Linked DNA regions of Homo sapiens. The protein of the gene in region 2 purifies or fractionates together with the protein of the main gene of each other region. This does not show direct contact. Each region holds a gene or a part of one and is shown on either strand. Other genes may lie near its edges.

What was found.
Region 1: the proteins of P4HA1 (region 2) and H2AZ2 fractionate together in Homo sapiens (co-fractionation; one large-scale study listed by BioGRID). This does not show direct contact.
Region 3: the proteins of P4HA1 (region 2) and WDR33 purify together in Homo sapiens (affinity purification with mass spectrometry; one large-scale study listed by BioGRID and IntAct). This does not show direct contact.
Region 4: the proteins of P4HA1 (region 2) and HELZ purify together in Homo sapiens (affinity purification with mass spectrometry; one large-scale study listed by BioGRID and IntAct). This does not show direct contact.
Region 5: the proteins of P4HA1 (region 2) and ATP6V1A fractionate together in Homo sapiens (co-fractionation; one large-scale study listed by BioGRID). This does not show direct contact.
Region 6: the proteins of P4HA1 (region 2) and PRPF39 fractionate together in Homo sapiens (co-fractionation; one large-scale study listed by BioGRID). This does not show direct contact.
Region 7: the proteins of P4HA1 (region 2) and SLC25A24 fractionate together in Homo sapiens (co-fractionation; one large-scale study listed by BioGRID). This does not show direct contact.

The regions. Positions count from the first base shown.
Region 1 is NC_000007.14:44,845,288-44,849,533, reverse strand, and holds the start of H2AZ2 (histone H2A.V), read left to right. Parts: upstream 1-1,446; 5' UTR 1,447-1,562; coding exon 1,563-1,565; intron 1,566-4,246. UniProt on the Homo sapiens protein: Variant histone H2A which replaces conventional H2A in a subset of nucleosomes. Nucleosomes wrap and compact DNA into chromatin, limiting DNA accessibility to the cellular machineries which require DNA as a template.
Region 2 is NC_000010.11:73,044,867-73,048,366, reverse strand, and holds part of P4HA1 (prolyl 4-hydroxylase subunit alpha-1 isoform 2 precursor), read left to right. Parts: intron 1-1,265; coding exon 1,266-1,442; intron 1,443-3,315; coding exon 3,316-3,386; intron 3,387-3,500. UniProt on the Homo sapiens protein: Catalyzes the post-translational formation of 4-hydroxyproline in -Xaa-Pro-Gly- sequences in collagens and other proteins.
Region 3 is NC_000002.12:127,801,172-127,804,671, reverse strand, and holds part of WDR33 (pre-mRNA 3' end processing protein WDR33), read left to right. Parts: intron 1-3,500. UniProt on the Homo sapiens protein: Essential for both cleavage and polyadenylation of pre-mRNA 3' ends.
Region 4 is NC_000017.11:67,105,697-67,109,196, forward strand, and holds part of HELZ (probable helicase with zinc finger domain), read right to left. Parts: coding exon 3,420-3,500; intron 3,031-3,419; coding exon 2,796-3,030; intron 1,990-2,795; coding exon 1,473-1,989; intron 1-1,472. UniProt on the Homo sapiens protein: May act as a helicase that plays a role in RNA metabolism in multiple tissues and organs within the developing embryo.
Region 5 is NC_000003.12:113,809,296-113,812,556, forward strand, and holds the end of ATP6V1A (V-type proton ATPase catalytic subunit A), read left to right. Parts: intron 1-39; coding exon 40-132; 3' UTR 133-2,761; downstream 2,762-3,261. UniProt on the Homo sapiens protein: Catalytic subunit of the V1 complex of vacuolar(H+)-ATPase (V-ATPase), a multisubunit enzyme composed of a peripheral complex (V1) that hydrolyzes ATP and a membrane integral complex (V0) that translocates protons.
Region 6 is NC_000014.9:45,097,616-45,101,115, forward strand, and holds part of PRPF39 (pre-mRNA-processing factor 39), read left to right. Parts: intron 1-3,500. UniProt on the Homo sapiens protein: Involved in pre-mRNA splicing.
Region 7 is NC_000001.11:108,197,544-108,201,803, reverse strand, and holds the start of SLC25A24 (mitochondrial adenyl nucleotide antiporter SLC25A24), read left to right. Parts: upstream 1-1,460; 5' UTR 1,461-1,665; coding exon 1,666-1,848; intron 1,849-4,260. UniProt on the Homo sapiens protein: Electroneutral antiporter that mediates the transport of adenyl nucleotides through the inner mitochondrial membrane. Originally identified as an ATP-magnesium/inorganic phosphate antiporter, it also acts as a broad specificity adenyl nucleotide antiporter.

The DNA.
Region 1 (4,246 bases), on a different chromosome or scaffold from region 2:
AGCTTCCGGGGGAAGGCGATTCCACTTTAGAGCTTTTCTTCCTTTCTAGCTGGGAGTTATCCTCCAAATTTTAACCTAATGATGTAAGCAAAATAAACACACTGAAGAGGTTGAGAAAAGAAAAACGGCTCACAACAGTCTGAGCTCTGTGAGGTCTGCAAAATGTATTAGGCCTAGAGGGACATGAGTATGGGACTTCGGTTATGCCCACCCTCTGCCCCCACATACACACATACCCAATCCCATGCATACCCAATTGTTTAAAGTCATTTCATTCCTGACTATCGGCCTCATCCATTACCTTTTTTTTTATTATTATTTTTTAGACAGGGTATATTCTGTCTCCCAAGCTGGAGTGCAGTGGTGCGATCATGACTCACTGCAGCCTCGACCTCCTGGGCTCAAGAGATCCTCCTGTCTCAGTCTTGACAGTAGGTGAGGCTACAGGTTCGCGCCACCAAGCCGGCCCCATTATCTTCGTGTTCTTAGAATTTGTAATACATGCCGGGCGCGGTGGCTCACGCCTGTAATCCCAGTACTTTGGGAGGCAAAGGGGGGCAGATCACCTGAGGTCAGGAGTTCGAGACCAGCCTGACCAACACGGAGAAACCCCGTCTCTATTAAAAATACAAAAGTTAGCTGGGCATTGGGGCGCGCGCCTGTAGTCCCAGGACTCCATCTCTAAAAAAGGAAAAAGAATTTGTCATACAAATAACAATATGTAGCCAATTGATAGCTTTTGTTTTTGTTTGTTTGTTTTGAGACGATGCGTCGCCCAGCTGGAGTGCAGTGGCGCGATCTCGGCTCACTGCAACCTCCGCCTCCGGGGTTCAAGCGATTCTCCCGCCTCAGCCTGCCGCGGACCTTGTCAGGGTCCGCGCTGAGAGGACGTCAGGGTAGTCAGTCCGCCAGAATACGGCTGAGCATGAGGCCTGCCTAACCTTGAAACCCAGCGCCCTCCTGATCCACACGTTCTAAGACGAATAAATCCTCACAGTCTGTGAAAACCCACCAGGAGAAGCACGTCCAACACTCTTTACCTCCCCAAACAAGTCTCAGAAGCGGGAAAACCAACGCCGCGAATGGGCGGGAAAGCCACAGCGCCTGCAATCGCTTCACCTTATTAGCTAATTTTGCTGTCCTTCCCAGTGGCCCGCCTCCCTTGCTCGCGGGCGATATTTTTATTGGCTTTCGTCTGCGAGGCGTCCAATCTCATTGGTTTGCCTTTCTGTTCGTCAGGCTTGGGCGCCTGGTGAAAGGCAGAGAGCGCGTCACTATTGGGGCTGGAGGCCCCGCCTCCGCGTGCCGTGTGCAAAAACAAACAGCCGTTAGGAAGGCGGTGCCGGGGGGGCGGGGTCTGGCTAGAAGGAGGCGCGCGATTGAACAGCCGCTGGGGTTCGAACCAGCAAGACAAGCGGGCATTGGCCACAGCAGCGCGAGGCGGGCACGGGGTATTGTCCGGCTCCGGCGGCGGCGGTCGGTGCTGCGAGAGCGGCGGCGGCGGCGCGGGTCGGCAGCGGGAGGGCGCGCGGCCGAGCGGAGGCGGAGTCGGCGCCGAGAACATGGTAAGGGCGGCCGGGTGGGCCGGGGGCACGGGGCCTGGGAGAGCAGAGCGCGGAGGCCCTGGCGTCGGCGCCGCTACCTGTGGAGTCGGGAGTTTGCGGGTGTCTGGGCTTCGTCCGGCCGAGCCCCTCGCCGCCCGCCGGGGGGCGCCATGTCCCAGCTGCGGAGCCCGACACGGGTCCCCGGGTGAGAGCTGGGCCTGGCCGGGTAGAGCGCGAAGTCTGTTCCGAGCCGGATAGATCTGTCCCGACGCTTGTGACGCTGCACCGCCCGTCTTAGAAGGAGGAGGACGGCAGAATCCGGCTTGGAAATGTAGAAACAAGTGCTGGATCTTAATGTGATCGCTTCTCTGTATGAATGAGGTCAAACAGGCTGCCGCTGTACAAGTTAGATAAGTCTTTGGCGATGTTTGGTTACGTAATCTCCCTGGCAGTCAGTTTGAGGGTTTCTGCGAAAGGGTGCTTGTATTTGTGGTCTTTTGAGCGACAAAGAATGGTTTTATAGACCAGAACCACACGATTTGTTCTAGGTGATTGCACAGGTTAGAAATGAACGCCCGTTATCTTCTGAGCCCCTTGCAGTTTGCGGTTTTCATTATACAACAGTACTTTCCTTTGCCCTTGCTATGGATTTTCAGTCTTAAAGTATTCATCTTTTCATTCTGAAATTCAGATCTAGATAAGAAGAGTGTGGCTTTAAAAAAATGAAAGTGAATAGAACTTCAGCCCCATTTTAAAGTTGAGGGGAAAAGAGAAGGTGCTAAAGGATACGCTCTGAGTTGCATCAAAGATTGTGTAAAAATAATAAGACTGTTATGGAATCTTATTTTTGCCGGTATTCGTGCTTTAAGCATTCTGTTGAAAGGTTACTTCAACGGGAGCTACCTGCTTAAAAGTTAGCACCAAGCTGTCATTTATCATACTGCAGATAGTATTAGATGATTTGTCTTGTGCTTGATGTGACAGATATGGTATTGAATAGACATAACACCTAACTGTAAACAGATTGGCCAGTCGAGAGGACAATGTTTGGTTATTGTAAAATACCCAAATCTTAGAGCTGGAATAGACTTTAGGGATAATTGCTTCCAACGTCTAACGTATAGTTTATTGTTATTGTAAAAAACCCAAATCTTAGAGCTGGAATAGACTTTAGGGATAATTGCTTCCAACGTCTCACGTATAGTTTATTGTTATTGTAAAGTACTTTATAGTACTTTATCAAACTGAGGTACAGCTTACATCTAATCTGTAAAAGGATTTGCTCAAACAGATGATTTTCATGATTCTAGTTTTTTGTGGTTTTTTTTTTTTTTGGTTTTTTGTTGTTTGTTTTTTGTGGTTTTTTGTGGTTTTTTTTTTTGAGACGGAGTCTCACTCTGTTGCCAGGCTGGAGTGCAATGGGCGATCTTCACTCACTGCAACCTCCGCCTCCCGGGTTCAAGCGATGCTCCTGCCTCAGCCTCCCGAATAGCTACAGGCGTGCGCCACCACGCCCTGCTAATTTTTTGTATTTTTAGTAGAGATTGGGTTTCACCATGTTGGCCAGGATGGTCTCGATCTCTTGACCTTGTGATCCGCCCCCCTCGGCCTGACAAAGTGCTGGGATTACAGGCGTGAGCCACCGCGCACGGCCAATTCTAGTTTTTCAGATATTTTTCAATCTCTAGTGATACGCTATATGTTTTATATCCACTTACCAGTAGCTAAAAATACATAAGTATTAACATAAGCTAAAAATGCAGGAGACATTGAGTTGTCGTTCTTGATAGATTTTAAACCTGAGAGGAAGTAAGCAGATGTCTGTTAAAACTGACATGAAAGTGTCTTAGTATCCAGTTTGCAAGTTTATCCAAGTAAAATGAACGAACTCCTACTTCCTCCTCTCTCTCTCTCTCTGTCTCTCTCTGTGTGTGTGTGTGTGTGTGTGTGTGTGTGTGTGTGTGTAATTTTTTAAAACCAACAACCTTAACTCAGGTTAATACGAAGTCAGTTCTTGGAATTAAAAAATTTAGATTTGGGTTCTCAAGCACCAATTATATTAAAATGAATGTTCAAAGTAGGGAGGCTATATATACAGTTTGAGGGGATATCGGAAAGAAAGTAATTATCCATTTATTGTATAGTTTTATATTCAGATAAGTTTGATACCATAAAAGTTTTCTTTTGTTAAGTATGAGAAATGTATCAGGAATCTCTAAATGTTGGAAATAGTCATTTAATGGATTGAGGCTTTTAAAACCTGACTGTATGTCTACTTCCTTAAAAAGCAAATAGAACACCAAATATGACATATCTGAAACAGTGAGGATAAAATTGCTTAAGCAGAGTAGTTATTATATGACCTGGGGAGCCTGGGGAATTTTGTAGTTGTTGGCTTTTTATTAGTGACTACTTCTTATTTTTTCCAATCCAGTCATAGGAAGACAGTGATTATAATTTTAGATGCCAGTTGAGAGGTTTTTAAGTGTTATATATTAGGGCAAATGGAGGTAACAAGGGTTTTTTATTTGAGAAGTAAGTAAGACTGTCTTGTTAGTGGAGCTGACCTCAAAAATCCAAAAATTGTATTTTTCTTATATAACAACATAGTCAAAAATTATTAAAATATGAGGCATTCTGGTAGAAATAGAGAGCGTCTCAGTTCTTACTGGTAAACTTAAATCAGTCTCTTGTTGAATTAC
Region 2 (3,500 bases):
GCTTGAACCCAGGAGGCAGAGGCTGCAGTGAGCCGAGATCAAGGCATTGCAGTGCAGCCTGGGTAACAGAGCAAGACTTTGTCTAAACAAAAACAAAAACAAAAAATTCTTTTTCTCAGAATAGCTACATTCATCTCATCATTATATAAAAGACTTACTAAAAATTAAAGCCTTGGATTTGACTCTAGGTAAAGTGCATGGAGAATAAACATGAATCATTATTTGTTTTAGTATACTATTAGTATAATAATTGAAACAGACTACTCATATTCCTGCTTATGTGACATACTTGTTTTTGTTTTGTTTTGTTTTTTTGAGACAGCTTCTTGCTCTGTCACCCAGGCTGGAGTGTAGTGGCATGATCATGGCTCACTGCAACCTCTACCTCCTGGGCTTAAGCAGTCCTCCCATTTCAGCCCCTCAAGTATGTGGGACTACAGGCAAGTGCCCTCATGTCCGGCTAATTTTTTAAATTTTTTGTAGAGACGAGATTTCGCTGTGTGACCTAGGCTGATCTTGGTCTCCTTGGGCTCAAGTGATCCTCCTACCTCAGCATCCCAAAGTGCTGGGGTTATAGGCATGAGCCACCATGCCAGGCCTGACATACTTGTTTAATTAAGAGAAGTAGGCAACAAAATAACTTATTAATATAATACATAGATGATTGAAGGGAATTTGTTTTGTTGACTGCTCTATTTTTATACTGCCTAATAAAAGCATCTGGGATCTTTGTTTAATAACTTATTTTTTCTTTTTCAGAGCTATCCATTTTTTATTTTGCCCTTAAAAAAATTCCTTTTTTTTTTTTTTTTTTTTTGCCACAAGCATTTAACTGTGAGGTATTTAGGAAAACCTAGTTTTTTTTTTCTTCTAGAAACTTTTTGTCTCTGGGTGCTTTCCAGTTACTTTGTGCCATTTAGAGCAATGCCAGGCATTCATTTAATATTTTCATAAACATGGCTTTTTTTTCATATTTAAACATTTGAACTTTATTTTGATGAGTGAAGGGTTAAAAGAGATACACTACCTTTCTCCTTATTTAAGACCTCGCCTCTCTCACCCAGAAAATAATCATTAATACTGTATTTAAAATTCTGAACATCCTGTTTGAGGCAAAATATTTGCAGAGTACTGCTTCTTTTGTATGTTTTTCCAGAGATACTCTGTATATGCAAGCATGATTATTGTCTCTTATCTGCATAGGAATAGATATTAAAAGTATTATTACTGTAATATATTCATCATATTCTTAACTTTATGTTTAGACCCCTCGGAGACAGAAAAAACTCTTTTGCCGCTACCATGATGGAAACCGTAATCCTAAATTTATTCTGGCTCCAGCTAAACAGGAGGATGAATGGGACAAGCCTCGTATTATTCGCTTCCATGATATTATTTCTGATGCAGAAATTGAAATCGTCAAAGACCTAGCAAAACCAAGGGTAAATAATGTTTTCTTTCTTTCTCCTCAATTTACTGTACCTTTGTATCAATTTTTCTTTGTAAAAAAATAGGATAATTGATATACGAATAATGCCACAGATTTTTTAAAGATATTTTGCCTCAGCATAATGGAGTTACTAATGATGCTGTGTTTATGCCAGTTTTTCCATTTGTTATCAACACAAGTAATGTACCCTTAACTGGGTTTTAAGCACTGAATTATGAAAATTATTGTGAGATTTTTATTCACCATTAACAAATTTGTGTTTCACTGTCTTCCTGATAAACTTTTCTCTGTATTTTGGAGTCTTTTAATCTCAGAGGCTACTCAAAGCCCAGCTTTTTCACTTCTGTATTTTTACTGAAAGAATACCGTGGAAGTATTTTTATTCCCTTTTAGGCACATTGTTACTATTATAAAAAGATATAATTGGGCACAAGTATTATGTTAATTTGAAATGGTGATAGTTTTCTGACTTTAACCCACAGAATTTATCTTAAAAAGAAAAAGAATCTAACGTAAACCCAATCTATAAGCTTAGTGTTGAGCATAAAAACTCTTTAGTGAGAATGTGGAAAAGACTACCCTTTATGCTCTTGCCTTTTCCCCCATCAGCTTGTTCTTAAAACATATTTGGTCTTCTTGATAGTAAAATACAAGCTGCCATCACTTTCATAAAGAGATTGTTGAATAAATTCTAGGCATGCTTTGCTGTCTTACACAGGAGTTGGCAGATTTTTTCCATAAAGGTCAATATTAGATATTTTTTAGGCTTTGGAGGCCATATGATCTCTGTCATGACTATTTAGTTCTGCCATTATAGTGCAAAAGCAGCCAAAGAAAATATGTAAATGAAAGAGTGTGGCTATATTACAGTAAAATTTTATTTCCAGTGGCAGGTAGCAGGCTGAATTTGGTCTGTGGCCATAGTTTGTTGACCCTTATTATATCAAAGGTTTGAATTATCTGGATATCTATACTACAAAATGAAGTTAGAATTTCTTTTAGAGTTTTTCTGCTTCTCCAAATTGGTGGTTTTTTTTTTTTTTGGCCAAAGATTACATTATAAATGCAAAAGACTGGTCTAACATTAATATATATTATTGGTGCCATCCAAGGTAATTAATTCATTTCAACTTGGAGATCAAGTTATATTCTGGAGATTCCTCAATTTGGATTGTTTTTGATCAATAAATTTAATGGCAATAAAATTTCATGCTCTCACAACCTCAGAATCATCGTTCCATTAAAAAAAATTGAAATTATTATCTAGGCGGTCACCTCTTTCTTGCTGTTTTTAACATTTATGAGCTCTTTTCCTCTGCCTTTGTTCTCAGTCCAAGATTATTTCACTGTATATGTTAATGAGAGTGGCTATCTTGAAGGGACAAAAGATTGACCTTAAAATGAATTTTAAACATTAACCTGTGCAAACAGTTCCATCACTAAAAAAAATTAAAGTCAAAGGTTTTGGAATGGATCATTAATTGCAAATAGGCATTCTTCTTTTTTTCCCCTTCTCTCCCCACCCCCAGATGGCTATTTTAACTGTAAATTAGACTTCAAATTTTAGATATGTCTCTTTTTCTTACTGTCATGTCCTTTCACCATTGAAAGAAATTTAATTTCCAATCTCTTTTGTTTGTATGTCCTCCATCTATGCAAAACAAAAAATTGAAGAAAAAAAAAAAACCCCAAAAACCTAAAAAACTAACTGGCTTTCAAGGCTCAGCACAAGGTGACTGGAAGTGTATGGAGTTATTTTCTCTTTTTAGCCTCCTTTGTAAAAACCCTGGAATTCTGACTGGTTGGGTAAATGTGATTCAGTTTTTTGTTTTGTAATGCAACTATTTTGATGGTTGGCTTCACAGCTGAGGCGAGCCACCATTTCAAACCCAATAACAGGAGACTTGGAGACGGTACATTACAGAATTAGCAAAAGGTAAGAGATGTGTATGCTGCATATTTTGCCCTCTAATGAGTGTTTTATACATCTTACAGGAATTATTCATTTAAGGAAAGTGGGTCATTTTCAGTCACCAGCTCAAGTCACCAC
Region 3 (3,500 bases), on a different chromosome or scaffold from region 2:
AACTAACAGAAGAGTTGGAAGAATAGTTCAAAGAACTCCTATGTACTTTTTATTCTGATTCACCCATTTTTAACATTTTGTCACATTTGCTTTATTCCTCCCTTCCTGCCTCCCAGCCCCTCATGTATTATTTTCGGAGCCATTTAGTGTTATTCACAGATATGCACTTCTCCGCACTTCTCTGCTCAAGAACAAGTTAAGTACCCGCAATATTAACTAATTCTGGACATTGAACATTTATATAGTATTGAAAATTCATACTCAAATTTCTCTAGTTGTCTCAGTAACATCTCACAGAATTTTTCTTTCTCTAATCCAGTATCCAATCTAGATATTTCTTTTCTTTTTTTATTTATTTTTTGAGACAGAGTCTCGCTCTGTCTCCCAGGCTGGGATGATCTTGGCTCACTGCAAGCTCCGCCTCCCGGGTTCACGCCATTCTCCTGCCTCAACCTCCCGAGTAGCTGGGACTACAGGCGCCCGCCACCATGCCTGGCTAATTTTTTGTATTTTTAGTAGAGACAGGGTTTCACCGTGTTAGCCAGGATGGTCTCGATCTCCTGACCTTGTGATCCACCCTCCTCGGCCTCCCAAAGTGCTGGGATTACGGGTGTGAGCCACCGCACCCGGTCCCAATCTAGATATTTCGTATCTCTTTAGTCTTTAAGCAGGAGCAGGTATTTGGCCCTTATTGCTTTTGGTCTTTTTTTTTTTTTTTTTTTTTGAGACTGGGTCTCACTTCGTTGCCCAGGCTAGAGTGCAGTGGCAAGATCATAGCTGCCTGCAGCCTGGAACTCCTGGGCTCAAGTGATTCTCCTACCTCAGTCTCCCAAGCACCTGGCACTAACCCCAGTTAATTTGAGGGCTCCTTTGCTTTTTTGGCAAAACAATAACCCAAGTCCTTCTTGTCTTTTCCTTTCCTTTTGTATCTTCCCATTTCTCCAAGGAGTCCCAGTTCTTTTGGTAGAAAATATTATTTATAAACCAGGATTTGGATGCTTGGTGGTGTATGCATTTGCTTGTATGCCCTTTTCAGTGGACAGAGCTAGAAAACATGATATTAAAAATCATCAGCTTACATTGGTATTTTATTTTATTTATTTTTTGAGACAGTCTCCCTCTGTCACCTAGGCTGGAGTGCAGTTGTGCAATCTTGGCTCATTGCAACCTCTGCCTCCTGGGTTGAAGCGATTCTTGTGCCTCAGCCTCCCGAGCAGCTAGGATTACAGGCGTCTGGCTAATTTTTGTATTTTTAGTAGAGATGGGGTTTTACCATATTGGCCAGGCTGGTCTCGAACCCCTGGCCTTAAGTGATCCGCTCACTTTGGCCTCTCAAAGTGTTGGGATTACAGACGTGAGCCACTGTGCCTGGCCTACATTGGTATTTTAAATTCCTAATCAAAGTTAACATTAGTGGCATTTTCTACACAGAAAACAGAGTCAGATTTATAATGCCAGTATTTTACTAACAATAACCCTACCAAGTGCAGTTTTTTTTCCAGTCCTTTTTTTTCTTAGCGTATACTGCATTAAAGATGAACTTTCTTCAAAAGTTACTTGAAATAACATTTTTCAGCTTGTTTGTTGAATTTGTTTATTTTGATTATCAAATTTCACAGTTTTTGTTTGTATTCATTATTAGGGTTTGCTTTTTCTCCCTCTTAATTTAGTTTTTTTGTTTGTTTGTTTTTGAGACAAGATCTCAATCTGTTACCTAGGCTGGAGTGTAGTGGTGCAGTTTTGGCTCCCTGTAGCCTCAACCTCGCAGGTTTGGGTGATCCTCCCACCTCAGCCTCCCAAGTAGCTGGAACGACAAGTGCGCACCACCATGCCTGGCTAATTTTTTGTGTTTTTTGGTATAGTCTGGGTTTTGCCATGTTGCCCAGTCTGGGCTCGAACTCCTGGGGTCATCGGTTCCTCCCTCCTCAGCCTCCCAAAATACTAGGATTACAAGGCATGAGCCACTGCACCCAGACGTAATTTAGTTTTTTTAATACGTTATTTACATGGTTTAAAATCTACTGAAAAAAAATTTTTAAGCACCTGTGACCAAGAAGGAATAAAATTAAATACTATATTGAAAAAGTACTGGCTGGGCGTGGTGGCTCACATCTGTAATCCCAGCACTTTGGGAGGCCGAGGGGGGCAGATCACCTGGGGTCAGGAGTTTGAGACCAGCCTGGCCAACATGGTGAAACCCCATCTCTACTAAAAATACAAAAATTAGCCAGGCGTGGTGGCACATGCCTGTAATCCCAGCTACTCTGAAGGATGAGGCAGGAGAATTGCTTGCACCCAGGAGACGGAGGCTGAAGAAAAAGTAGTTAAGTCTTGCTTCTGTCTCTGAGCTCTGGAGTTCATTCCAGTTTTTACTGTGTATATTCTTATTTTCACATTCTTAGAAGAAAGTTGGCATGCTGTATATGCTTGTGACACTTGATTTTTTTTTTTATAAATTGTGATAAATGCATAGCAAAATTTTACTGTCTTAATTTTTTTTTTTTGAGTCGGAGTCTTGCTCTCTCCTCCAGGCTGGAGTGCAGTGGCGTGATCTCAGCTCACTCCTGGGTTCAAGTGATTCTCCTGCCTCAGCCTCCTGAGTAGCTGGGACTACAGGTGCATGCCACCACACCTGGCTAATTTTTGTATTTTTAGTAGAGACGGGGTTTTACCATGTTGGCCAGGGTGGTCTGGAATTCCTGACCTCAAGTGATCTGCCTGCCTCAGCCTCCCAAAGTGCTGGGATTACAAGCAGGAGCCACTGTGCCTGGCCTTAACCATTTTTTTTGAGATGGAGTCTCACTGTATCACCCAGGCAGGAGTGCAGTGGCACGATCTCGGCTCACTGCAGCATCCGTCTCCTGGGTTCAAACAATTATCCTGCCTCAGTCTCCCGAGTAGCTGGCACTACAGGTGTGCACCACCACGCCCAGCTAATTTTTTGTATTTTTAGTAGAGATGGGATTTCACCATGTTGGCTAGGCTGGTCTTGAACTCCTAACCTCAAGTGATGCACATGCCTCCGCTCCACAAAGTCCTGAGATAGGCATGAACCACTGCACCTGGCTCATAATGTAATTCTGTTTTTAACATTTTTGAAGAACCTCTATACTGTTTTTCATAGTGATTGTACTGTTTTTTTTTTTTTTGTTGTGTGTTTTTTGTTTGTTTGTTTGTTTTTTAGAGACAGAGTCTCACTGTGTTGCTCAGGCTGGTCTTCGCCTCAAAGTGATCCTCCCACCATGGCCTCCCAAAGTGCTAGGATTACAGGTGTGAGCCACCATGCCCAGCCTCATTGTACCATTTTACAGTCAGTACACAATGGTTCCAATTTCTTCATGTTCTTACCAACAGTTATTATTTTCTGTGTCTGTGTGTGTTTTTCCTCTGAGAAAAGGTCTCCTTCTGTTACCCCTGCTGGAGTACAGTGGTATAATCATAGCTCACTGTGCCTCAACGTCCCGGGCTCAAGCAAACCTCCTGCCTTAGCCTCCCGAGCG
Region 4 (3,500 bases), on a different chromosome or scaffold from region 2:
CTGAAAGACTGTCAGATGTGTGCCAAATTTTTGTAAAGTATGGTTCCAAAATTCTAGATCCTCACAATACATATATGTAGATACCAATTCATCTTTATTGTGCTTCTAACTTACTTTAAGAGCCTAAAATCACAGTAAGTTGTTTTAATGACAGCTATACAGAATGAGCCAATCAATGAATACTGGGACAATTTGAACAGACTGCCTCTAAATCCCTACAAATAAGACATACAGCTTTCCCTATGAATCTTGACTTTTAATTAGCATCTATAGCAGGCAACTTGTAAAATGTGAATCAATTATTTCTAATGGCCTTTAGATATCATTCTGAAACTGCCAAAATGAAGCTAATATCAAAAAAGTATTTTTCATATATCAAAATTAGAAATCTTTATCCTGATTTAAGATGTCTCTGTCTGATATGACTACAACCGGCTTTACACATTTTTATCTTTAATCACTGCAAATTTAATGGGATCAGCTAGACATTTTTGTAGCCTACACCACATGGTACTGCTTTGGAAGTTTTATAACCTGGAATTACTAAGTTTTTCATAGGAAAAAAAAGTCCATAAAGATGCTCTTTAGAAATATCTAAGTATTTTACTTTATTTATTTATTTTTTTTTTTGAGACAGAGTCTTGCTCTGTCGCCCACGCTGGAGTGCAGTGGCATATCTTGGCTCACTGCAAGCTCAGCCTCCCGGGTTCACGCCATTCTCCTGCCTCAGCCTCCCGAGTAGCTGGGACTACAGGCGCCCGCCACCACGCCCAGCTAATTTTTTCTATTTTTAGTAGAGACGGGGTTTCACCGTGTTAGCCAGGATGGTCTCGATCTCCTGACCTCGTGATCTGCCCGCCTCGGCCTCCCCAAGTGCTGGGATTACAAGCGTGAGCCACTGCACCCGGCAGAAATATCTAAGTATTTTAAGATAAAATTCAGTTTAACTTAAAATGCTTAGTTTAGCACAGTCAATTTTATGTTAAAAATCTGCAAATTCTGATATTTGGGAATCAGAGTCCCTGGGTCTAACAAAGCACCAGGCTGAGTGGCAGGAGAAGGAGCACAGCACTTGGAGCTGGCACTGGCTGAAAAGCCAGCATCTTTGGAAAGTTCTCATTAACAAATTTATAATTAACACATGTAACTTAAAGCGAAAAGAAGAATCACTAAAAGCCATTTCCTCAGATTAAAAAAAGACAAAGCTCCTTGAATAGAGTCCTCAGATATTCAATATTTTCTTTAAACAGCAATAAAAGACTTTTAAGGGGCTTCATGTTTCAACAAAAGTGTCCACTTTACAAAACCTGAAATACAATAGGAGGGTGGCAATTAAAATAATTCCCAAGAAAGGATTATCTTTAATACGCTGTTAAATTCAATAAGATCTGTGCCTTCCTATTATCAAATCAATAAATACTGATATTTTTCACAATCAGCTAATAACAAAAGGAAAATAAGAAGACATTTACCTCTTCTAAGCTAGGGAGCGAAGAAGAAGATACTGTTCGAGATGACAATGGGTGAAATGGCTCTTGACCAATAGCATGTTGATGATTCTGTATTTGTACAAAAGGGTTCTGCGGTGGCCTGTGAGGCAATGGAGGTAGGCCATAGGGAAAACCTGGCCCCATTAGGTGATTCTGTTGCAAGTTAGCAAAAGTCCATGCTCCATCAGGTGCCAGGTATTTCAAGGGAGGAGGGGCAAGGTGTTCAGATGGCAACGAGAAAGGTGAGTTGAATATCTGGGGTGGGAGGCGCTGTGGAAATGCTGGGTTGCTGGCTACTTCAATGTCTCTGCTGTTATCATTAAAGTTAGAAAAGTGGCTACTGTGGTCTGTACTGGATGGGGGAGATGGGACTGCTGGTGGGCTTCTACTCTGTACTTGTCTATATTGCAAAAGTCTTGATTGAGGTGGTGGCATTTCAGCTAGTTCCCGTGTTTCACTTTGATCACGATGAGACAGTTCTCTGATTAAGTCTTGAAACCTACATGAAAACAATAAAATATGAGGAGAAAACAAAAGGCTCCATCACATTAAGGAAAGCTTAGTCAACTACACATGTATTTTCAACAAACAAAATCATAGTACTAATAACTAGAACTGGCATTAATTCATCTCAGATGTAAGCATTAACACTCAATAGATGCTGAGGTGAAGAAATTAAATATGCTCAATTACCTGATTTCTTTCTGTTCCCATTGTATTAAAAACATCTGTCCTTGTCTCTATACAGCTTTGACAACTGGAAGTTATAAAAGGTCACCATGATGGTGGACCTTATTCAGAAGGGATTAGGAAACACTTCAGAGCATTCATGTGACACTGGCCACAAAAACAAGCTTAGAGTTAGGACCAAATACTCATATGTAGCTGGAATTATAGGAATGTAGAATTCTGTGCCACCATAAAAATAATTAATGATATAATTTTTAGCTTTTAACCACGAATTTACTCCTGTCTTTATTCATTCTTTGCAAGTATTACTACTAAATAAAAAAAGCTGCTCACAGTGATGGTATGTTTCTCTCGCAGAAAAGACCACAAAGTAAGGGAACAAGTTAATTTCCAACCCATAGTAGATCATCCATGCCTAAATTTGTAGAAGAGTTACTTCTAAATGAGTTTTCTGTATTTTAGAGTCAACAAGAGAACTGTGTAGCGTGTGCTTGGAAGGCCAGCATCCAATTTCTCTGAGGCAATATTCCAGCTTGAAGCTAAAAGGACTACAGTCAAAAAAGAGAACAGTGAGGGGGTCGCATTCCAGGGGCTATTTTCAGTCCGCTGGAATACCTTGAGTATGTGGTCTCCACTTCATCTTCGGCACTGCTGGTGAGCTTCCAGTCTGCCCTCACTGGCGGCTGATGTAATCCCAGGGGCGGCTGAGGAAGATGCTGGAGGTGAGGATGGTGATGGTGTGGGTATGGAGCGCTGCCCTGACTGAGAAAGGCATGATGCTCGCTCCACTGCTGGAACCGTGCCTGCTGCTGCCTTAATGTTTCCAGAGCGACACTCCCATGTATACGATCTGCAAAAATATTTGTGAAAAATTTTTTATGAATTTGGGGTTTCAAGTTCATTATTTAAAGTTTTTTACTAACATATTTTCTCCACAAAGACAAAGGACGTAGCTACAAATTTGGTTTTGGTAAGAAGTAAATGTTTTCTAAATTTGCCAGAAATCAGTTATGGTGATGATGATGACAACTCTTCCTCACTTACATAATGATGATCCTGACATCCACTGGATACTATCATACAGCATTTAGAACTAGTTTCTGATTATCACACTAAATGGGGGGGTTTTGCTAGCATTATTTGAAGAAACAATTCAATCTTAACCCAAAATGATATTATACAGTCCAAGTCATGTTAAGTAATCTCTGAATTTTCACATCTGGCAGTAATAGAACTTACCTAAAGCCTCCCCTATAGGTAATCCCGAGGGGTTCTCATCAATGAAGCTATTCAGATGTGAAGGAAGAATGGGGCCGGGTT
Region 5 (3,261 bases), on a different chromosome or scaffold from region 2:
TTTCCAAATGCGAGTTGAATTTGTAATGTCTTCTTTCAGGATCCACTGAAAGATGGTGAGGCAAAGATCAAAAGCGACTATGCACAACTTCTTGAAGACATGCAGAATGCATTCCGTAGCCTTGAAGATTAGAAGCCTTGAAGATTACAACTGTGATTTCCTTTTCCTCAGCAAGCTCCTATGTGTATATTTTCCTGAATTTCTCATCTCAAACCCTTTGCTTCTTTATTGTGCAGCTTTGAGACTAGTGCCTATGTGTGTTATTTGTTTCCCTGTTTTTTTGGTAGGTCTTATATAAAACAAACATTCCTTTGTTCTAGTGTTGTGAAGGGCCTCCCTCTTCCTTTATCTGAAGTGGTGAATATAGTAAATATACATTCTGGTTACACTACTGTAAACTTGTATGTAGGGTGATGACCCTCTTTGTCCTAGGTGTACCCTTTCCTCATCTCTATTAAATTGTAAACAGGACTACTGCATGTACTCTCTTTGCAGTGAATTTGGAATGGAAGGCCAGGTTTCTATAACTTTTGAACAGGTACTTTGTGAAATGACTCAATTTCTATTGTGGTAAGCTCATTGGCAGCTTAGCATTTTGCAAAGGAATTGCTTTGCAGGAAATATTTAATTTTCAAAAACATAATGATTAATGTTCCAATTATGCATCACTTCCCCCAGTATAAATCAGGAATGTTTGTGAGAAACCATTGGGAACTATACTCTTTTTATTTTTATTTTTTATTTTTTTTATTATTTTTTTTTTGGGGACGGAGTGTCCCTCTTGTTGCCCAGGCTGGAGTGCAATGGCGTGATCTTGGCTCACTGCAGCCTTCGCCTCCCGGGTTCAAGTGATTCTCCTGCCTCAGCCTCCCGAGTAGCTGGGATTACAGGCATGCTCCACCATGCCCAGCTAATTTTGTATTTTTAGTAGAAACGGGGTTTCACCATATTGGTCAGGCTGGTCTCGAACTCCAGACCTCAGGTGATCCGCCCACCTCGGCCTCCCAAACTGCTGGGATTACAGGCGTGAGCCACCGCGCCTGGCCAGGGACTATACTCTTTTTAAAATAGACATTTGTGGGGCTCACACAATATATGAAATAGTACCCTCTAAAAAAGAGAAAAAAAAAATCAGGCGGTCAAACTTAGAGCAACATTGTCTTATTAAAGCATAGTTTATTTCACTAGAAAAAATTTAATATCAAGGACTATTACATACTTCATTACTAGGAAGTTCTTTTTAAAATGACACTTAAAACAATCACTGAAAACTTGATCCACATCACACCCTGTTTATTTTCCTTAAACATCTTGGAAGCCTAAGCTTCTGAGAATCATGTGGCAAGTGTGATGGGCAGTAAAATACCAGAGAAGATGTTTAGTAGCAATTAAAGGCTGTTTGCACCTTTAAGGACCAGCTGGGCTGTAGTGATTCCTGGGGCCAGAGTGGCATTATGTTTTTACAAAATAATGACATATGTCACATGTTTGCATGTTTGTTTGCTTGTTGAATTTTTGAACAGCCAGTTGACCAATCATAGAAAGTATTACTTTCTTTCATATGGTTTTTGGTTCACTGGCTTAAGAGGTTTCTCAGAATATCTATGGCCACAGCAGCATACCAGTTTCCATCCTAATAGGAATGAAATTAATTTTGTATCTACTGATAACAGAATCTGGGTCACATGAAAAAAAATCATTTTATCCGTCTTTTAAGTATATGTTTAAAATAATAATTTATGTGTCTGCATATTGCAGAACAGCTCTGAGAGCAACAGTTTCCCATTAACTCTTTCTGACCAATAGTGCTGGCACCGTTGCTTCCTCTTTGGGAAGAGGAAAGGGTGTGTGAACATGGCTAACAATCTTCAAATACCCAAATTGTGATAGCATAAATAAAGTATTTATTTTATGCCTCAGTATATTATTATTTAATTTTTTAGGTAATGCCTATCTCTTGGTCTATTAAGGAAAGAAGCAATCAGTAGAGAATTCAGGATAGTTTTGTTTAAATTCTTGCAGATTACATGTTTTTACAGTGGCCTGCTATTGAGGAAAGGTATTCTTCTATACAACTTGTTTTAACCTTTGAGAACATTGACAGAAATTATGCAATGGTTTGTTGAGATACGGACTTGATGGTGCTGTTTAATCAGTTTGCTTCCAAAGTGGCCTACTCAAGAGGCCCTAAGACTGGTAGAAATTAAAAGGATTTCAAAAACTTTCTATTCCTTTCTTAAACCTACCAGCAAACTAGGATTGTGATAGCAATGAATGGTATGATGAAGAAAGTTTGACCAAATTTGTTTTTTTGTTGTTGTTGTTGTTTTGAATTTGAAATCATTCTTATTCCCTTTAAGAATGTTTATGTATGAGTGTGAAGATGCTAGCGAACCTATGCTCAGATATTCATCGTAAGTCTCCCTTCACCTGTTACAGAGTTTCAGATCGGTCACTGATAGTATGTATTTCTTTAGTAAGAATGTGTTAAAATTACAATGATCTTTTAAAAAGATGATGCAGTTCTGTATTTATTGTGCTGTGTCTGGTCCTAAGTGGAGCCAATTAAACAAGTTTCATATGTATTTTTCCAGTGTTGAATCTCACACACTGTACTTTGAAAATTTCCTTCCATCCTGAATAACGAATAGAAGAGGCCATATATATTGCCTCCTTATCCTTGAGATTTCACTACCTTTATGTTAAAAGTTGTGTATAATTGTTAAAATCTGTGAAAGAATAAAAAGTGGATTTAAATTAACATTTTTTTCTTTTTCTCTTTTTTATGGCACAATCTGCTAGAAAATATGTACCTTGTATCTTGACTTAATGTTTTGGTATGACCTTTTAAAATTTTTTCCTTCCTTTTTTATAGATTGTTACTTAAGATTATGAAATTGAATTGGAGCCCTCATTATAGCCTGCAAAAAGTCCCATAACTGTATCACACTATGTTTTGGAAATATAATCTACAGAATCCCATCCCATTCTGAATTTTACTTTGAGAAAGTGAATGGTTTCTATAAATTCACTTCTAAGTGCAAGGAAATCAGTGGTACTCTTCAGTTTTTAACAAGTAAACTAAAGCCTTGTAATTTATGATTTTGCAAGCCAATTTAAAGTCCAATATAACAATGTGCAACATCCTTTGTAGCAATTCATTATGGTACGTAGGATATATTTTATTTCCTTAAATGTTGTATTTTTAACAATTTCCAAAGGAGTGAAGAAGCAGTGTCAAAGAACTGTATATTACCATTG
Region 6 (3,500 bases), on a different chromosome or scaffold from region 2:
CACATTTTTTGTTTGTTTTACCTCCAGTGGCATCTCTTTTAATTTGTTTATGTCTTGATTGCTCATCCTGGTTTACCATGTTCTCATATGCTTATATAAGCCATTTTTTAAATTACCTGTTGATATTATTTGCTCATTTTTCTATTACATTATCTTTTTCTTGATTACAGTAGTTTGCTAATGTACTTGTTTTTGGTTTTCAAAAAAAAGCATGTGCATATTGCTTAAGAAGTTAGCTAATGTTAAACTGCTTGTAACAAAAAGTACCACCTCCACCTCCCTTCAAATATTTTAGCTCTTTCTTCTGGTATTTTCCACCATGTGTTTAACAGTAGATCTATGTTGCTTTCTTTCTTTCTCTGTTAGCTGTAGACATTATGTATCTGTTACGGTAAGTGAGAATTTTAACCCACTTACACTTTGTTTTCTCATTCCTTATCTTTCCAATATAGCTACAGAATAGGTTTCAATAATCAGCTTCAGTATTTTTTTTTAATCATTGTAAATCCATAAATAAGGATGGGCACAGTGGCTTATACCTGTAATCCCAGCACTTTGGGAGGCTGAAGTGGGAGGAGCGCTTGAGCCTGGGAGGTTGAGGCTGCAGTGAGCTGTGATTGCACCACTGCACTCTAGCCTGAGTGACAGAGTGAGACCTTGTCTCAAAAACAAAAAACATTAGCTGGGCATGGTGGCGCATGCCTGTAGTTCTAGCTACTCGGGAGGCTGAGGCAAGAGAATCGCTTGAACCTGGGAGGTGGAGGTTGCAGTGAGCCAAGATCGATCGTGCCACTGCACTCCAGCCTGGATGACAGAGCAAGACCCTGTCTCAAAAAAAAAAAAAAAAGAGAGAGAGATCAAAAACCTATAAATATTTTTCATCATACTGTCTTTTCATTTTATAACCTTTTTGGTTTTTAATTGCTCCTCCCCTGCCCCTCATTTTTCCCGTTTGTCTAATTTTCTTTGAACATTTAAGGTTTTTTCATACTCTCCAGCAGCTTTGTAGAAGGCTTTAAATATAGCTTTCTATACAATCAGATCTGTTAAAAAATGTGTAAGTCCCATTTTTTCCTCTCCTTTGAGCTGTCTCCTGGAAACCTTCCTACTATAATCTGGACTGGTCTTCTAGTTCTGCTGTACAAGAGTTGTCTTGGGATTTTCTTATCATCATGGTTCTAGGAGATGTCTTTACCTCACTTCTGGGTGAGTTTATTATTAGATCTCACTCTTTTCTTGATTTCATGTCCAACTTTTAGAAGAGTGTGTCCTATAACTTCTTGTTAAAGGATGCTTGGATGAAAAAATAATTTTAAGGTTTGGTAAGCTGTAGAATTTGGAGTTGAAAATTATTTTCTCCATAGAGCTTTGAAGGCATTATTTATTCCTTTATAGCTTCTGCTATTGCTTTTGAGAAGTCCAATACCATTCTTGCAGAATAGATTCTCTTTCTATAATGTGTTTTTCCTCTGTGGAAGCTGTTAGGATGTTCTCTTTGGGTCTGATGTAAATGAAGTTTTATAAAAATGAGCTTTGATGTGGATTTTCTTTTTCTTATTGTGATTATTGGGTGATTGGGTGAGTCTTTTCATTCTGAGATTCTAATGTCCTTCTATTCTTAGAAATGTTATTATTATGGATATTCTTATTTTGACAGTTTCCTTGCCTTGATTTTCTCTGTTGTTTTTAATAGTTGGATGTTGGACCTCTTCTTTTAATTACTGAGTTTTTCTTTTCTTCTTCCTATTTTTCATATCTTAGACTTTGTCTGGCTTTTTGAGGTATTTCCTTGACCCTTGTATTGGATTTTTAACATCTTCCATCAGATTATTATTATTTTTTTTTTTGAGACAGAGTCTCCCTCTCTCCCCCAGGGTGGAGTGCAGTGGCTCGATCTCGGCTCACTGCAAGCTCCACCTCCTGGGTTCACGCCATTCTTCTGCACCAGCCTCCTGAGTAGCTGGGACTACAGGCACCTGCCACCACGCCTGACTAATTTTTTGTATTTTTAGTAGAGACAGGGTTTCACCGTGTTAGCCAGGATGATCTGCATCTCCTGACCTCGTGATCCGCCCGTCTTGGCCTCCCAAAGTGCTGGGATTACAGGCGTGAGCCACCACGCCCGGCCCAGATTCTTAATATCCAAGAATCTTTCTTGTTCTCTGAGTGTTCCTTTTTTTATACTCTCCAATTCTTGTTTCATGGCTGCATATCTTTTTGTTATTTCTTTGATGATACTAAGGATAGTTGAGATTTTCCTCTGTTCCCAGGACGGTTTCCTCTCAAATTTTTCTGTTTACCCATTTTCATCTCTGAGATATGTGATCTCTGGATTTTTGTTCCTATTACAGATTAGATATTAACAAGCTATATGAGCCAGGCACAGTGGATCACTTGAGGTCAGGAGTTCGAGACCAGTCTGGCCAACATGGTGAAACCCTGTCTCTACTTAAAATACAAAAAAATTAGCTGGGCATGCTGGCAGGAGTCTGTAATCCCAGCTTCTCAGGAGGCTGAGGTAGGAGAATTGCTTGAACCTGGAAGGCAGAAGTTGCAGTTAGCTGAGATCGTGACATTGCACTCCAGCCTGGGTGACAGAGCGAGACCCTGTCTCAAAAACAAACAAACAAACAAACAAACAAACAAAACAAAACACAAGCATATGGAAGCACTGTGTGTTTTGTATGGGGCATTGTCAGTTGGCCTATGGTGTTTCACAGTAGTGTAATCATGTGGCCACTCTTTTTGCTGGTGGATTCCCAGTGATAGTAACCTTATATCTTATTCCTGAGCCAAGCAGTTTGTTTAGAAAAGGATAATTTTATTTACTTGGGGAATGGACACCTAGCTTCTGAAATCCCCATAGCTGGGCGGGAAAGTTGAAGATTTCTCACGATTCATTAAGTATACCTTCTTCTAAACGTTCTGTCTTCATTTCATTACCTTCTTGTCTTCTTCCCCTTTTCTCCATACTTTTTTCAGTGTCTGGTTAATTTTCTGAATCATTTGGGGTTCTGTAGGGACAGTAACATCTATTTTATTCTTTTGAAAACCTTACACCAAATATGCACATGCATGCATGCACAGACACACATGCTCTTCAATCTTTTATTTCTATATTAAACATATTTCCTCCAATGTTGGTATGTTTTTAACTTTGTTTATGGTGTCTTTTATCATATGGAGTTTTATTTTTCCTTAATGTGCTTCTGTTTTAATTCTTACTGGTTCCTGAGTTTTGTGCCTATTTTACCAAAAATATATAAATCCTGTATTTTGTTCTAACTTTTCTATAGTTTTTTGCTTATTCATTTATCTGAATTTAATTTCTATCTGTCGTGAGATAGACATTAGCCTTTTATATACTCCCACTGTTGAATTAAAGTATCTCCTATATCATACACCAAATACTCACACACATTGATCTCTTTTTTGTTTTCTTGGCTCTGTACTGTTCATCCATTTTTCTGTTACCTGGCCAGTGCCAAACGTGTAATTAC
Region 7 (4,260 bases), on a different chromosome or scaffold from region 2:
GAGAATAGCTTGAACCCAGGAGGCGGAGGTTGCAGTGAGTTGAGATTGTGCCACTGCATTCCAGCCTGGGCGACAGAGCTAGACTGTCTCAAAGAAAAAAAAAAAAAAAAAAGAAATAAATAAAAAGTAAAATGAAAGCATGTAAGTGTAAGATGACTAGTTCAAGCAACCTCTCTTCAAGTACAGAGTATTCAGAGTAGAGATTAAAAGAGGTTTTCAAGGACAGAGAAAATTTGAAGTTTGAAGGCAGTTCCAAAGGAAGGCAATGATTCTTAATAAGACTGGAAGTTGGAAGTAATATAAAAAGATAAATCAGTTTCAAGATGATTTTACTAAGCAGGCAGCCCTTAATTTACAAATTCTAGATTCATACATATCTTAAACATACAAAATGATATGAGGAGAGGTAAGTTCAGGGTCTGAGTTCCTGGCTGTTGTTGGAACTGATTTCTGTGTAGTGATTCAGAAGATGTGAGACACCCTAATTTACAAGTACAGAGGTATCTTCTTTTCTGCAAACAGCAGTACAACAATAGTTCCTCTTACGCAGCTGTGAATGAACAGGATTATTACAATTAATGATATCTCATTTGATTGGCGCCTTAGAGAATTAAGACCTTTCACACCTAATATACAACTTTGTTGTGAAGGCAGATATTTATATTCTCATTTTACTGATGAGAGACTACCCGGAGACGCTATGTCACACCTGAAGGATTAGGTACTTTCTCTGTTAAGTCCAATGTTCCTTCCGTTATTCCATGCTAGGCAGTAATAAGTTCTGTCTTGCCTGAGTAATAAGCTCCAAACCTCGGAACTGCACCCATCTTGAGAAGGAGGAGGGCGCTGTGGTTTTTTCTGATAAGTGCAGCTGGCAGACACTCTATACGCTTAATCACGGGCAAATCCTAGCTAAGCTGCCTACCAAACTAGTCCTTCTTTTCCCCGTTGCCCACGCAGATGGCTGTTGATCTTTTCTGCAACAAATCCAGGAGTTTCTCCTTTTTGTTTTATAATTGCTCCAATAGATGCTTTAGGATTTAACTCTCTGCTTTTTAAAGCAGAATCGCCATCCCAGGTGTGCAACCACGAAAAAATTAGACATCCGTGAGAGACAATGCCCTCCATGGCCCAGTTTCCAGGCAGAGAGAAGCAGCTCTGGGCTGACCGCCAAGGCTCCGGCCCGAGAGGGTCTTTAAGTGGAGTAACCAGTCTTCAAGACCCCGCTCCCAAGCCACCGACGCGCTGACGCTGCAGCCCTGGACCTGCTGGGGGCCTCTTCCTCGGACCCGCATGCTGACAGCGGGACTGGCAACTGGGCAGAGGTCGACCCCGGGTCCGCACAGCACCTCCCGAGACCCAGCTCCCAGCTCCCTCACTTCCGGCTCTCTGGAGGCGGGCCCGGCCAGTGCCGCCGAGGCCAGCGCGGCGAGCTCCTCCCCAGCAGCGGCGGGACGGCCACACCCTGCGCTCCGCGCGGGCTCGGGTGGGGTCTCCGCTCCTGCGCCCTGCGCCCTGCGCGCCGCAGCCGCAACCCCGACGGCGCCCCAAACGCTGTTGCGCCGCGCGCCCCGCCCAGCCCGGCCTCGCGCTGGTCCCGGTCTCGCCCCGCAGCCCTCGATCTCCCGTGACTTCCTCGGCCAGGCCGCCTGCGCCTCTGGGACCATGTTGCGCTGGCTGCGGGACTTCGTGCTGCCCACCGCGGCCTGCCAGGACGCGGAGCAGCCGACGCGCTACGAGACCCTCTTCCAGGCACTGGACCGCAATGGGGACGGAGTGGTGGACATCGGCGAGCTGCAGGAGGGGCTCAGGAACCTGGGCATCCCTCTGGGCCAGGACGCCGAGGAGGTGGGTCGCCGCCGGGGCGCCGCCTGAGCGTAGGGAGGGCTGCGGGCGCTGGGGACACTGCGAGGACCGAGGAGGGCGGCGGCTTGAGGCGTTGCCAGGAGAGGAAGGAGGAACTGTGGCGCCCAGCGCTCCGGTGGCTTCAGAAACTCGGGCGTGGGGCCGCGACCGGCGACCCCGGTAACAGAAGTGGGTCATAATACGAAAGTCTACTGGTATTTGTCCAGATAAAATGAGTGTTGTGGACACTCTGGCCCACGGGCACTGTTAAATTTTTAAGACACTTTTGTCCTGAATCCATCCCAGGTTCTTTGTTTTCTGTTTTAATACCTTGCAGACATGTAATCCGTTTTAGCTGTCAGACTTCAGTGGGTCCCAAGTTTTGTATAAAGGCGCACACATTCGATCTCTTTCGAAGCTGCTTTGTTACAGCAGCTATGTGTATTGTCTACTGTTTGAAAACTGTTTGAAAACCAATCGCGTGTTTCCCCCACTTCCTGTTGAGAAGGAATGGCGGCATTCCATTGTTTAAGACATTCCTAGGTTAATGCCCTAGGTACATAAATTGATCTGAAGGGTTGACTTGACCTGCGACTGAGCAATTTCATTTTCTCTGAGTCATCTTAACTGTGCCCCTGAACTTCTGCCCCTTTAGTAGGGTGGAGATATGTGGAACTTCTCCAACCCTGTTGAAGCGTTCCCTGACACTGGCATTCTCTTATCCAAAGAGGGAAAGTGATTAGGTTACTATGAGGGCCAACAACTGTTATATAGTTATATTTCACTTCTCTTTTAATGTCTTTGGTAGTTATAGGCCTCTTCAGTTTACTGTTTCTTCTAGAGTCAGATTTAGTAAGTTACAATTTTTTTTGAAACTGCCTGTTCTGTCCAAGGTTCATAATACTCACCGATGATTTTATAACACTTCTGACTGAATCTGTAGGTAGGTTCTCTATTTCATTCCTCATATCTATCCTTTTCTCCCCTTCAATCTTGCCAAAGTTTTGTGTATTTTATTCATACTTTGAAGGAACCAACTTTTGGTACTTTGTGCTGATTGTCCCAGAAATGGCCCAGTTGGAGTTCCCCACCATGTCCAATCATTGGCTGGAAGCAGCCCAGGAAAGGGACGACCTTGCTGCAGTGCATCAGCAGATGCCAGGGTTAGAGGCTAGAGAGTGGAAGTCAACTGTGTTCCTCACAGTAGGTGCCTTTGAAGGGAGATCTCAGTGGTACAACTCCATGGTCCCTACAATATACAAAAGCTCTTTGGAGTGCTCAATGATTTTTAAGATTGTAAAGGGATCCTGAGATCAAAAAGCTTGAGAATTGCTGCTGTATCACCATTTTTACGTAACTGCATCATATTCTGTTATATGTTTGTGTCATAGTATATGTTACCAATTCTTTTTAAATCACCTTTTACTTTATTGATAGTTTAAAAACGATTGTAAGTGAAATTGCAATGGATGTCCTTTGTATTCATTTTCTCATTCTGGTCCAGTTACTTTCGTAAGATAAATTTTGAGGAGTGGACATTGCTGAGTCTGAAGGTAACACACATTTTAAACTGGGATACGTATTGCCTTTCGGAAACCTTAGACCCATTTTCACTCTTTTGACTGACAGTGCTTGCTTCTCCACATCCTCGCTCATTCAGGGTATCAGTCTTTGTAAAGTCTCCTATTCTGCAGGTGAAATTCCTTTTCATTTCCTGTCTTAGTCCATTTAGTGTTGCTATAGTGGAATATCTGAGACAGGGTAATTTATAAAGAAAAGACATTTATTTAGCTCACAGTTCCGCAGGCTGGGAAGTTTAAGAAGCGTGGTGCTGGCATCTGCTGGACTCCTGGGGAGGGCTTTCCTGCTGTGTCACAACATGGTGGAAAGTCAAAGTGGAAGTGGACATGTGTGAAGAAGCAAAATCCGAGGGGTGTCCTGGCTTTATAGCAACCCAGCCTCGAGGGAACTGATCCATTACTGAGGGAACTAATTCAGTCTCATGAGAGAGAGAACTCACTCACTACTGCAAGAATGACACCAAGCCATTCATGAGGGATCTGCCTCCGTAACCCTGACACCTCCTGCTAGGTCCCTCCTCCCAACACGGCCACATCAGGGATCAGACTTCAACATGAGTTTTTGTGGGGACAAACAAAACGTAGCACTTGCTTTGCCTTTTGGTTCTATTCACATCCTCCACAGGATTGCATTATGCCTACCCATTTGGTGAGGGCAGTCTTCTTTAATTGGTTTACTGATTCAAATGCTACCCTCCTCCAGAGACATCCTCACAGACACACCCAGAAATCATGTTTTACCAGTTATCTGGGCATCCCTTAGTCCAGACGAGTTGATACATAAAATTAACCATCACACATGGGATAGAATTAGGATTACACAGTCAACCTTTAT